Regions from separate parts of the Homo sapiens genome. Here regions 2 and 3 are each linked to region 1. Evidence: fine-mapped expression QTL. A gene starts in region 1. Each other region holds a variant in brackets. All regions are shown on one strand. Distances are from middle to middle.

Region 1 (4,149 bases):
AACATGTTACTTGAACATATAGTGGGTATACAGTCAAGCATTTGTGATTTTTTACAAAATTGAGTTAGGGATATAATGTGGTCTAATTTTTCAATCTTGGTCTATCTTGGACTTTGTATGTCATCTCTTTATTTTCAGGAAGATAAAGCTTTCAAGCTTCCTCCTTCTTTGTCCACTTGTTTATAGTTTTGATGGCTCTTAGGAAAGATAGTCTAGGGAAGATTTTTTCCTCTCCCATTTCAGGTATATCCCTCTCTCTCTGGTAATCCACTGAGTTAATACCACATGCTTCATTTCAAAGCATTGGAAACTGTGTTTATTTCTTTGTAATTATGGCAACAGGATTTAAAGAAGAGAGCCACGGGAGTCTCTTGTTCTTGGTGAAAGAGCCACAAATCCAGATAAGGAGAATCTCAGACCACAATGAGACAGTGCTGATGTAAGAATAGCATTAAATAGGCGGGGCGCGGTGGCTCACGCTTGTAATCCCAGCACTTTGGGAAGCCGAGGTGGATCATGAGGTCACGAGATCGAGACCATCCTGGCCAACATGATGAAACCCCATCTCTACTAAAAATACAAAAAAAAAAAATTAGCCGGACGTGGTGGCGGGCACCTGTAGTCCCAGCTACTCAGGAGGCTTAGGCAGGAGAATCATTTGAACCCCGGAGGCAGAGGTTGCAGTGAGTCAGGATTGTGCCACTGCACCCCAGTCTGGCTACAGAGTGAGACTGTCTCAAAAAAAAAAAAAAAAAAGAGATAAGCACAAACCAAGAAGGGAAAGATGACTACGTGAACACCACAGTGACTCAACCATGAACATCTCCTTTACTTACACCTTCATATACAGGCTATTAGCTCTTCTTCAACATATATGCTTTGGACTGGTCTAGCCTGTAGGCAAGTTTGTTCTTACCATTCTTCCACCTGTCCTGGAAGCACCTTTACTGGGACTTCACAGCTACCTCTTTTGTGATCCATCCCCACAAGGTCTAGCTCTTAGTTAGCTGTCAAGAGATATCATTTGTGGCAGATACTGCTAGTTTCTTATCTAACTTATTTTCCACATCTCTTTTTTTCATTTGTAACAAAGCCCTAATTTTGTGCAGGTAGATTATCAAGGGAGGCTAGGTCCTTCCCCTAGTGACAGGGGCTGAAGCATGATGGGCCCCAAACAATTATTTATTCTTGGTAATAACTAGTTTAGGATGGGTACATGACACAATACATGTCTGTATATTTTACCTGGATTCTATTGTCAACGTTACCAACATGCTTAGGGTGGCAGAGAAGCACTGGGACCTTGATGTTGTCACTGGGCCACCGAATTAACCAACCTGTAACTGCTCTTTGAACATCCTTTCGGTGGGTTTTCTGTTACTTGTAGCTGAAACTATCCTATCAGATATTCCACAAAATCACATTACCTAAGTTGTCAAATCTCCTAATATTGTTTTAATAACCATGCAGCCATTCATTAAGCTTTTAGATACAGGAATGTGCCTGGCACTGGAATAAGGAAATATGTTGAGACTTTTCAGGCTTTTCTATCAAGGTACCTATCATTTTCGTCTTTTTTTTTCCCCAAACACCTTTATAAACTGGCAATTTCTTTCACTTACATTATCTTATAATCTTTGAAATTACCCTCTGAGTTAGCCCAGAGAGGCACTCTGAGCTGTTTGCAGCTGAGGAAAGCAAAGTTGTAAACTGGCCAAGATTACCAACCAATCAGTGGCAGAGCTTGGGGAGGAGCTCAATTTTCCAATTCCAAATGCCTACACCAGGGCACTCCCTCCTCCCCCAGCACACAATAGGAAATGACTGGCTCTAGGGTAGGCTGCATGTGAGGTATCCGGGGGCGAACAACGTCCTGCGACGCTAACCTATGGCTCTATTCTCGCGTGGGATCCTGTGACTAGGAAGCTGAAGCAGCTCGCTTAGGCTGCAGCTGCGGGTACAATACGTAATGCCTCTATAACACTTTGAGTCAGAGTCCAGCAACCTGGCCTACACCGATGTGAACGTTGTGAACGTACACAAAGATACTCCTTCATGTTCCACGGCCCCACCATCCGCTCAAGACACAAAGGACAGCTCAAGCCCAGGCTAGGCCCGAACCCCCGCCCTCTCAATCACCTTGCTCTGGCCAGACCGAAATTTCAGGCCTACAGGGCACTGTTGGCCGAACCCACATTTTGTTACCGATTTTCTTTCGAGTTCCGGTGTCTCCCAGTCTTCTTTCTGTCCTTCTTCTCGGAAACATTACGTCCCCCTGGGGTCACCCTAAGACTCTACTTCAGCAGGCAAACAGGCCCGGAGCTCACGGAGGAGACCCCGCCAGCGGAAGCGGAAATGGTTGCTTAGAGAAAAGGAGGAAAACTACCTCTCGCAGCTGCCCAGTGGCTACAGGTCCTCGGTTAAGGTGTTCAATTGGTCAACACAAAAGAAGGACTTCCCCTTCGGGAGAACTTCGACCAATCAAAGGGCAGGATGGCGGAGAGGGCTGAGGGCGGGTCGCTTCCGGCGGCTTTTCCCGCAGCTCCTGCGTAAAGGAGCATGAGAGCGTGGGAGTTTTGCAGTGGCCGTGGCGTTCTTCGTCGCGTCTCGGTCGGGCGTCGCTTTCTGCAGCTCCTGTCAGGGAGCGCGAGGCCTGTTATTAACCGCGGAGCGGTAAGTGGGCCCCTTTCGAGGCCGGGCCAAGAGGAGGAGCAGTCGGCGTAGGTTTTTAAGGGGGGGTTCGGAGGGAATCGAGGGAGGCTAGGGGTAGTGGAGGAACTTGGCAGCGGAATTGGTCCCTTTAAGAACTGTTCTCTCCCCCCGCAGCTTTGTCACGAAGTCCCTGTGGCGTCTTGAAGAAGGCATTCCCCACCCGCCAAATGGCGTCCATGCCCCCGACGCCCGAGGCCCAGGTGAGTCGAGGTACCTTTTTCGTCCAAGTTTATTGCTGCTTTCGGTCTCTGCCTGACCCCCTCCTTTGGAGGAGAGTTGGGCATGCCTGTTGTGGTAGGAGTGCTCCTGAGCCCCAAATAGCCCTTTGACCAAGTGTTCTTCGTTCCAAGACCACACACATAATGGTTTACCAACTTCCTTCTTTCAGAACTACCAACTGGGAGCAGGGACCTGTGGAGGAATCTCTGAGAGAGTTTCTCAATGTCTTATCTGTTTGTTTTGTTTTGTTTGGAGATAGGGTCTGGCCTTGTCGCTGGAGTGTTGCTTGTCTGGCTGGAGTGCAGTGCTGATATCATAGCTCCGTCTGGAACTCAGGGAATCCTTACGCCTCAGCCTCTCGAGTATCTGAGAGGCGCGCATACCACAGTGTCTGGCTACTTTTAAAAGTTCTTTTTTTTTTTTTTTTGATACAGAGTCTCGCTCTGTCGCCCAGGCTGGAGTGCAGTGGCGCGATCTCGGCTCACTGCAAGCTCCGCCTCCCGGGTTCATGCCATTCTCCTGCCTCAGCCTCCCGAGTAGATGGGACTACAGGCGCCTGCCGCCACGCCCTGCTAATTTTTTGTATTTTTAGTAGAGACGGGGTTTCACCGTGTTAGCCAGGATGGTCTCAATCTCCTGACCTTGTGATCCGCCCGCCTCGGTCTCCCAAAGTGCTGGAATTACAGGTGTGAGCCACTGCGCCCGGCCTAAAACTTCTTTATGGAGATGGAGTCTTGCTGCTTTGCCAAGGAACTCCTGGCCTTCAGCTATCCTCCCACCTCGGCTCCCCAAAGTGCTAGGATTAAAAGTGACTTTCTGGAATGGTTCCCAAAATTACAGATTTGGTACTTCTCCAATTTGAATGAATTTTTAAATTAAGCACATTTCTAGACTCCACACTCGTTGAGTAATAATAAATCCCAAGTGATTAATTTATCACACCGTTAGAGAAGGTGGGGTAGGCCTGGATGAAGTGCTGGAGTGAGCTTAGCAATGAGTGTCATGGGGACGAGAGGAAATAGCAAAGGGAAGGATGTTGGGAGAATCCTGTAACCTTTATCTCTTTATGATTCTTCCTGGGCTGCCCAACTTTCTCCTTTTCTTTTCTTTTTTTTTTTTTTTTTGAGACAGTCTCGCTGCGACGCCTAGGCTGGAGTGCAATGGCGCGATCTCGGCTCACTGCAATCTCTGCCTCCTGGATTCAAACGATTCTCCTGG
Region 2 (4,149 bases), 45 kb before region 1:
CAAGAGCAGCTGTGATGGGGCAGGTGTGGGTGGGATGCAGCGGGCCTGAGGTCCACTGATGAGTCACATGGGGTGGCGGAGGGGCAGCTGCCTTCTCTCTCTCCCACAACACTCATTCCCCAGAGACGCAGAGGCCAGGTGGATCCAAGAGACCACTTAAAGACTGACATTAGGGAGGCTGCTGAGTAAACATGGAAGGACGCCTGCACCAGCCACCAGCTGCGGACGCTGGGCATAACTGAGGCCGCACAGAGGCCAGCAATACAAAGTCCTTGGAGCTTGGAGACCGTTAGGGGCCTAATCCACTTTTTTTCCCCTTTTCTTTTTTTTGAGACAGTGTCTCACTGTCTCCCAGCCTGGAGTGCAGTAGCATGATCTTAACTCACTGCAGCCTTGAACTCCTGGCCTCAAGTGATCTTCCTGCCTCAGCCTCCTGAGTAGCTGGAACCAAAGGCAGTTGCCACCATGTCCAGCTAATTACAAACTTTTTTTTGGTAGAGAAAGGGTCTTGCTATGTTGCCCCTGGTCTCCAACTCCCAGCCTCAAGCAATGCTCCCGCCTCCACCTCCTAAAGTGCTGGGATTATAGGTGAGGCTCCACGCTGGGCCCTATGTTTAACAATCATAGCTCACTGCAGCCTTGAGCTCCTGAGCCAAGTGACCCTACCATCTCAGCCTCCTGAGTAGCAGAGACTACAGGCGTGGGCCACCACCATGCCCAGCTTTTTTTTTTTTTTTTTTTTTTTTTTTTTTTTTTTGAGACGGAGTCTTGCTCTGTCGCCCAGGCAGGAGTGCAGTGGCATGATCTCGGCTCACTGCAACCTCCGCCTCCTGGGTTCACCATTGTCCTGCCTCAGCCTCCTGAGTAGCTGGGACTACAGGCGCCCGCCACCACGCCCGGCTAATTTTTTGTATTTTTAATAGAGATGGGGTTTCACCGTGTTAGGCAGAATGGTCTCGATCTCCTGACCTCGTGATCTGCCCTCCTCGGCCTCCCAAAGTGTTGGGATTACCAGTGTGAGCCACCGCGCCTGGCCGATTTTCTATTTTTTTAAGAGATGAGGGTCTCACTATGTTTCCCAGGCTGGTCTTGAACCCCTGAGCTTAAGAGATCCTCCCACCTTGGCCTCCTGAAGTACTGGGATTACAGGCATCAGCCACCGCACCTGGACTCCACTCACTTCTGAACAAAGAGTGGAGGCTCAGAGAGGAGCACAGGTTGCCCCAGGCTCCAGATTTTGGGTGGGTGGGGGGGGGGGTCCCAGGCTATGGTCAGTGGCCCTTCTGCTACCCCGGATGAGCCACGTGTCTTCGTGTTCTGGCCCCTGTGTAGCCCCCTCCCCTTGAATTGGGACAGGCTCCAGATCCTGCTTTACCAGTAGAATGTGGCAGAAGTGGCGGGGTGTCACTTCTGGGCAGTAAGGAAGCCTGGCAGCTTCCCAGGAGGTCAGTGGCCCCGTAAGGAGTCTACCCTGGGACTGTGGTATGGTGCAAAACCAGCCTAGCCTGAGGAAGCCATGGAAGGAAGGAGCCAAGCCCATGGCCACTGCTGAGCTCACTGTGGGCAGCCCTGTGGGTAGGGCCATCTTTCACACAGGTCCTCCAGCCCCGCCAGCCTGCCTGGCTAATACCACATGGAGTCCCTGCTGACTCCTGTCCCAGCTGGAATTGGAAGCAAACAGAATGGCCCCTGCTTAGGCTGTGAAGCTTTAAGACAGTCTGTTACTCCGGCAGGCACGGTGGCTCATGCCTGTAATCCCAGCACTTTGGGAGGCCGAGGTGGGCAGATCACGAGGTCAGGAGATCGAGACCATCCTGGCTAACACGGTGAAACCCCATCTCTACTAAAAATACAAAAAAAATTAGCCAGGCATGGTGGCGGGCCCCTGTAGTCCCAGCTACTCCAGAGGCTGAGGCGGGAGAATGGTGTGAACCCGGGAGGCGGAGCTTGCAGTGAGCCGAGATCACGCCACTGGACGCCAGTTTGGGGGAGAGAGCAGGTTCCGTTTCAAAAAAAAAAAAAAAAAAAAAAAAAAAAAAAAAGACAGTCTGTAACTCAGCCACAGACAGCTGTAGCCAGGATCTTACCCGAGAGGACATCTGCTGCAGCCACATGCTGGCCCCAAAGAAAACTGGCCCTAAATTGGCCTCTAGACAGTCCCTCCCGCAAAACCTCCCAAAGCCTTTTTGAGAAGCACTCCAACAGACTGAGAGGCAAAAAAGCCACAATCATGGCACGCTGGGGTGGGAGTCGATGTGGAGAAAGCAGCACTTGGCCTGAGCAAGCGGACGCTCATGAAAATACACATTGACCTCAGCCGGACGCGGTGGCTCATGCCTGTAATCCCAGCACTTTGGGAGGCCGAGGCGGGCGGATCACGCGGTCAGGAGATCGAGACCATCCTGGCTAACATGGTGAAACCCCGTCTCTACTAAAAATACAAAAAAATAGCCGGGCATGGTGGCAGGCGCCTGTTGTACCAGCTACTC[G/A]GGAGGCTGAGACAGGAGAATGGCGTGAACCCGGGAGGCCAAGCTGGCAGTGAGCCAAGATCTCACTCTGTTACCCAGGCTGGAGTGCAAACAGAATGAGATTCCATCTCAAAAAAAAAAAAAAAAAAGAAAATACACTGACCATCCCTGGGCACGCCCCTTACCCCGTGAGTCCCTGAACGCCGGTGGGCTAGGAATGGAAGACCAGGAGTCTGTCTCCGTCCTGAAAGTATGAAGGACCCCTACCCTATAGGAGATCCTTGGGTGGTGTGTGCAGGGAGCGGGGAGACCCAAGGCTGCCTCGGGCTCCACCCCTGAGCAGGCCTGGGGCAGAGCCAGCTCCGTTCAGGGCTGGCCTCCGTGCTATGTCCAGGTGCATCCTGTGTGTGTCCTACCTCTCCCTGGGTCCCACACTCCCTTTCTGCCCCCCAGTGGAGCACGAGCGTTTGTGTCCCAGCTCTGCGGTCCGGTGGGGCTATGGTGAGAGGCCTGGAGCAGTGGCAGTCCTGCCTGGCCTCACTGAAGCAGGGCCTGAGGAGCCGCAGCCCCACCTGGGCAAGTTACTAACTGGTCACACGATTGACCAAGGGCCCCAAAGAGTTACCCTCTTAACCGCAAGCTGACTCATCAGCAAAGGTGCAACTGTCCTTGCTGGAGTAACCAAGACTGTGTCTCCCCAGCAGACGCTCCCGTGGGCAAGCTCAGCGGGTTAATCTGGTTTCACTCACCCCATGGCTTTGGACATGGGTCCAGCGCGCCCAGCTGCCTGGCCTCCCAGGGCACCAGCGTCCACCCCTACTCCATCTTGCAGATGCTTCAGACCCTCTCCTGGGAGGACCCTCGGCAAGTTGCATGTCTCCCGGCCACTGGATGAGGTCAAAGGCACAGGAATGGTGTAACAGAGCAGCCACGCAGGCTTCAGAGTGGCCCAGGCCTGGGCCCAACACTCACAAACTGTGGCTCCTTGGTAACTCCCAGCCCCCGAGCCAGTTCTCCTCATCTCTAAGAGGAACAATATCATCCCTTGAGGGTGACCAGAAGTTTCCATGAGAGGCTGACGGAAGCACCAGGTCTGTGCTGGGTGGGCACGCACCTCAGGCTCCACAGCAGGGTGCACCAAATCACCCTTGGAGCCGCCTGCCTGGACTGGGCCCCAGCTCAAGGCCTACAGCCAGGGAGATGCCCAGACAGGGCAGCTGCTGGGGACCTTCCAGTGAAAAAAGGACCTAATGTGCTTCTCAACTCTAGAACCTCTTCCCCAGTTTCACATTCTTTTTCTGGAGTCTCGCTCTGTCACCAGGCTGGAGTGCAATGGCGCCATCTCAGCTCACTGTAACCTCCGCCTCCTGGGTTCAAGCTCTCCTGCCTCAGGCTCCCGAGTAGCTGGGGCTACACGTGCACACCACCACGCCCGGCTAATTTTTGTATTTTAGTAGAGATGAGGTTTCACCATGTTGGCCAGGCTGGTCTCGATCTGACCTCGTGATCCGCCCACTTCGGCCTCCCAAAGTGCTAGAATTACAGGCGTGAGCCACCGTGCCTGGCCAAAGGTCCTCATTCTCTGACAGGGTTAATCACACAAAACCACTGTCCCCTTTATCTGGAAGCCATCCTTGGGCCTTGCCAGTGACAAGTAGCTCGAGGCCAACTTCAGCTACAG
Region 3 (4,149 bases), 40 kb before region 1:
CCCAGGCTGCCCACCCCTCATCAGCCCCTCATGGAGGAGTGGGGGCCACTCCTCACCCCCCAGGCTTCTTTGGGCTGGTTCTGGAAGGGGACGGGCCATTCCCTTTATTGCGCCCCCTTGTTCCGAGGCTCCTGTGCCTTTACGGTCAAGTGTGTCCATAATACTTGCGTTCCTCCCTTGCAGGAGAAAGTCCCCTCCAGCTTTCCAGGAAGGAGCTGCAAGAACAGGCAGCGGAGTGGGAGAGGCCCAGTGAGGGCAGGCCCCTCCCAGTGAATGCAGCCACACTGGGTCAGCCCTGGGGACGGTGCATGCGCAGGGGGGCAGGGCCAGGGCAGCAGGCAGAGGTTTCCAGAAGCAGGGAGGGGAGCTGAAGAGCCTGTGGGAAAGAGAAGAGCAGGGCAGGGTGAAGGCCCGGCGGAGACACTCTGCCCACCCCACACCCTGCCTATGGGCCACACAGCTGGGCCTGGGTGCTCCAGGAGCATGAGCCCTTCTCCAGGCCATGGTGTCTGCCTGCAGCCACTAGGCGCCTCTCGGTCCCCACACAAATAAAGGCACTGATGGATCCAAAGTCGGGTGCACAGCCCAGTTGCCATGGAGCCTGCTGTGTTAGCTTGGCACAAGTCACCAAACCTCTGGGCTGTGCTGGTGCATAAGGTGGTGGACTCTGCAGTCCCCACGGCCCCTTCCGGCTCTGCCGTTCTCTGTGCCCATCCAGGGCCTTCCACTTTTGTGGCTGGAGGCACCAAGCTCCCATACCTTTGTGTCTGCTGTGGCGTACCTGCCACGGATGGGCATGCTCTGCGCATGCCCACGATGTTCTGTTCCCGAGCCCGTGTAGCACCGGGCCTGCAGCTGGGGCAGGCCGACGAGCCCAGTTAGATGGCTGGCAGCTCCTTGCAGAAAACAGAAGGGGTCAGATGGACAGGAAGGCGGGCTCTGCGGGCGGCCGAAGGGTGGGGCCTGGTGGCGGCTGCCCAGCCGACATCACATGGTCCGGCTGTACTCGATGCCACTCTTGGAAGAGATGCCCGACCATGGCAGGAAGCTGCAGAGCAGGCTGTGGGCCTGGCGGTAGACTCTGTGCGGAATGGAGCAGGGGCTCAGGCTGGCTAGTGCAGAGCCCAGGTGCTGGATGTAGTCCGTGGGGCTCTGTTAAGGAAGATTCCGACTTGCCCTGACCACGCTCGCCAGGGCACAGTCATCAGGGGCCCGCGCAGTGGCCTGTGGGACTGTGTGCAGATGGCAAGCCAGGCTTCGGAGGCTGAGAGCCCGCTAAGCCTCTGCAGAGCTGGAAAGGCTCATGAGACGAAGTGGCCTCTGCTGTGCAAAACAACAGAGGGTGGGGTCTGGGGACAGAAGGGCCTTCTGAGTGAGGCAGCAGGCATGTGGACACCACACCCAGGGATGCACGGGGGGTGGGGAAGGGGCCTGGCAGAAGGGCAGGTGCTTCTGGTTCTCCCTAGATTCTCAACCTTTGTGGCAGCAAGAGGGACAGAGCCCTGTCCATATGACAAGGAGGGGGTCAACAGTGCTGACCCCCTGGATGCCTGTCTTCACATAAGCTAGACGGCCTGTGGAGTGTGGGGTCACCCCTCTCTTTCCTGCTTATTATTCTATGTAATGAATAAATCCTAGACTCATGAATTTGAAAACACACACACACACGCACAGCATTTTTTTGGGCCACATTCTGACTATTATAAAGTTTCCTGGCTTCCCTCTGACCTGTCAGGGGCCAGTGAAAGTTAAGGAGGAAGAAGCAGGGAAGGGCATACCTTTGGGTCATGCATCCTATAAGGAAGGTTTGAACCCAAGTATTCAAAAAAAGTAAAAATCTCTTCTCTCCGCACTTGTTTCCCCTCTGCTAGCACAGGCTCTGGGAGGACAGGGGATCCTGTCCGTTTTGTGCACTGCTGATCCCCAGTGCAAGTGGAGCAGGAGGCTCTCCAGCTGGGTGC[A/G]GGGCTCATGCCTATAATCCCAGTAATTTGGGAGGCTGCGGCAGGCGGATCATTTGAGCTTAGGAGTTCGAGACCAGCCTGGGCAACATGGTAATATGTGCAACTCGATTTACCCAAATGTGTGTCAGGTTTACCCACAACACGATCAGGTAAGGGAGAGAAGCATCCATAAGCTTGGCCACCTGAACATCATCTGAGGGGGACCACAGCTCCAACTTGCTCACTGGCTCTGCCACCTTATGGACAGGAAGCCACAGTCCCTCTCCCCCAGAAGTTAAGGATATAAAATCGTCCAGGGAGGGTGGCCGCCGTTGATGTAGAGGACATAGGTGAAGCCATCTTTGAGGACCCCTCGAATGGAGTAGTAATAGGGGAGATAGTGGTGCTGCTTGAAGTCTCTGTTTTCATAGAAGTTTATTGCTGTGTTGTTGGTGGTGAGGACATGCAGGTAAATGGCTTTGCAGTGGTCCTGGGCGGTGGTTGATATGTGATCCTTTAAACTTTCAAGTAAGAGGGAACCTTGGGGAGAAGAGGTAAAGGTAATGCAGGCAGAGCAGTTAGGAAGGAAGGATGACTGGGCTAGGATGGGGGCTTTGCATGAGTCTCTCGGAGATGTCTCGGCCCACCGTATCAGAGACCAGCCTTTCTTCACCACCACTGTCAAAGTCCCTAAAATCTCATGGCCAGATGGAGCCTGGTAGCTACAGACTGCTGGGAGGGACTGCAGAGGTGGCCTGGTAGCGCCCTCCCATGGGCTGGGCCCGCATGGAGACTCCCTTTCAGACAACAAACAGGGTAAATGTGAGCCCAGGAAAACATGGACTAGATGGGCCTGGGTTTAAAATTAATTAAGACTCTGCCGCTCACTGGCCGTGTGGCCGAGTGGGGTGGGACATCGGAGAAACGGTGAGTGTTGCTTCCTCGTGCGTGTTCACGCTTTCTACTCTGAATCGTGAGCAGTGAATACACGAGTTGTGCGTGTGGCGGCAGCAGAAGTGAGAGGTGCCAGTTTCCTCAGCTCCATCCTGGGGGCTGAGCGAGGCTGCAGCAGAAAGGCCTGGGGGCATGTGGAAAGAGGATGGCTGAAGGTGGTGGGTGTGCTGGCAGGGGAGGGATGATGAAGGTCTGGCCCAAGACGGGAACGAGGATGGAAGATGAGACTGAGGGATGTTCACGAGCCAGAGTTGTTGGGGCCAGGGAAGAGACTGGGTGCAGATGGGATGGGGGTGGGGTAGGGCAAGGGGGTGGGGTGGGCGCCAAGCCGCGGGCCCGGCTGCCCTTACCTATGCCGTGCTTCCTGAACTCTTTCACGACGCCCAGACTTAGGATGTACGCGACTTGTGTGTCAACAGAGAAGTTGGATGCTAGAATATCTCCATCCTAGAGGAAGAGTCAGAGAGAAAGTCAGGCTCACACGTCTGGTGCACGGCTCACTGCACAGCCCGGCCCAGGCGGGCTCCGCACCGACTTCCCACGACAGCCAGAGGGACACCGACTGGGAGGGGCAGAATCAAGAGGTACTGGAGAGGGGCCCCCACTCCCCAAGGAAATGAGAGCGTTTATGCCCTTCTGGTGAAAAACAGCTGAAAAGAAGAACACACACAAAAGGAGCTTCTCCTAGGGGTGTGTGGGAGGCCTAGCCAAGGACGGGAATGAGGCTCTGATGCCAGCACAAGGTAAAGTTATGGCATGAAGGCAGCAACTACACAGCACCACGCGGGCCTCATGGGAATGCACGCATGTCACCTGGTAGGCCTGGATGCAGGACAGTGGACAAATGCAAAGTTTTAGAGGTTCAGTTAAAGAATCGCACGCTGCCCCAGGTGATCTTGGAGGAGTGAGACTTGGGCGGCCGTCCAACCCCTTCTGCTGCCCCCACAGGCAGAGGACACCGCCACACCTGCGTAAAGCCACCCACCATCTCTTGGTTCTAGAGATGGAATTCCGGGTGGGAGTCATGAATCTGATCAGCATGAGGCTCTTATCATCTTCCAACTCGTAAAGAACAAGAAGGCCTTTCTGCTCCCACGTGCTGGGCTGGGGTCAGCCTGTCCAGGCTCCCTGCTCTCCCAGCCCTCTTCAAGCCACAGTTCACCCAGATATGTCAGTCCAGGGAGGAAGGCGTCCTTATCACTCTTGTTACTCCAGGCCTGCAGGAAGGGTGTCTGTTCCCCAGCTGACATCTCTT

What was found. PIP is the estimated chance that this variant, and not a neighbour inherited with it, causes the effect. A credible set is the group of variants that fine-mapping cannot tell apart.
Region 2: its variant is the best candidate, but not a certain one, in a credible set for the expression of NAA60 in atrial appendage (GTEx, PIP 0.64).
Region 3: its variant is the best candidate, but not a certain one, in a credible set for the expression of NAA60 in testis (GTEx, PIP 0.79).

What each region holds. Positions count from the first base shown.
Region 1 is chr16:3,441,884-3,446,032 of GRCh38, reverse strand. NAA60 (N-alpha-acetyltransferase 60, NatF catalytic subunit) reads right to left here and starts at 2,353. Exons shown (of 8, transcript NM_001083601.3): 1 at 2,196-2,353. It overlaps ZNF597 (zinc finger protein 597), which reads left to right and starts at 2,529. Exons shown (of 4, transcript NM_152457.3): 1 at 2,529-2,673; 2 at 2,827-2,912. The coding sequence starts at 2,880. RefSeq lists an enhancer at 2,120-2,269.
Region 2 is chr16:3,487,006-3,491,154 of GRCh38, reverse strand. No RefSeq gene overlaps it. Among named protein-coding and RNA genes, the nearest start is that of MIR6126, 3.6 kb to the right of the region's middle. RefSeq lists an enhancer at 2,772-3,066. The variant G/A (reference allele first, on the strand shown) is at 2,490.
Region 3 is chr16:3,481,694-3,485,842 of GRCh38, reverse strand. It overlaps NAA60 (N-alpha-acetyltransferase 60, NatF catalytic subunit), which reads right to left. Exons shown (of 8, transcript NM_001083601.3): 5 at 3,245-3,341; 6 at 2,246-2,480; 7 at 782-1,144; 8 at 1-376. The coding sequence ends at 988. MIR6126 (microRNA 6126) reads left to right here and starts at 374; the gene lies at 374-462. The variant A/G (reference allele first, on the strand shown) is at 1,962.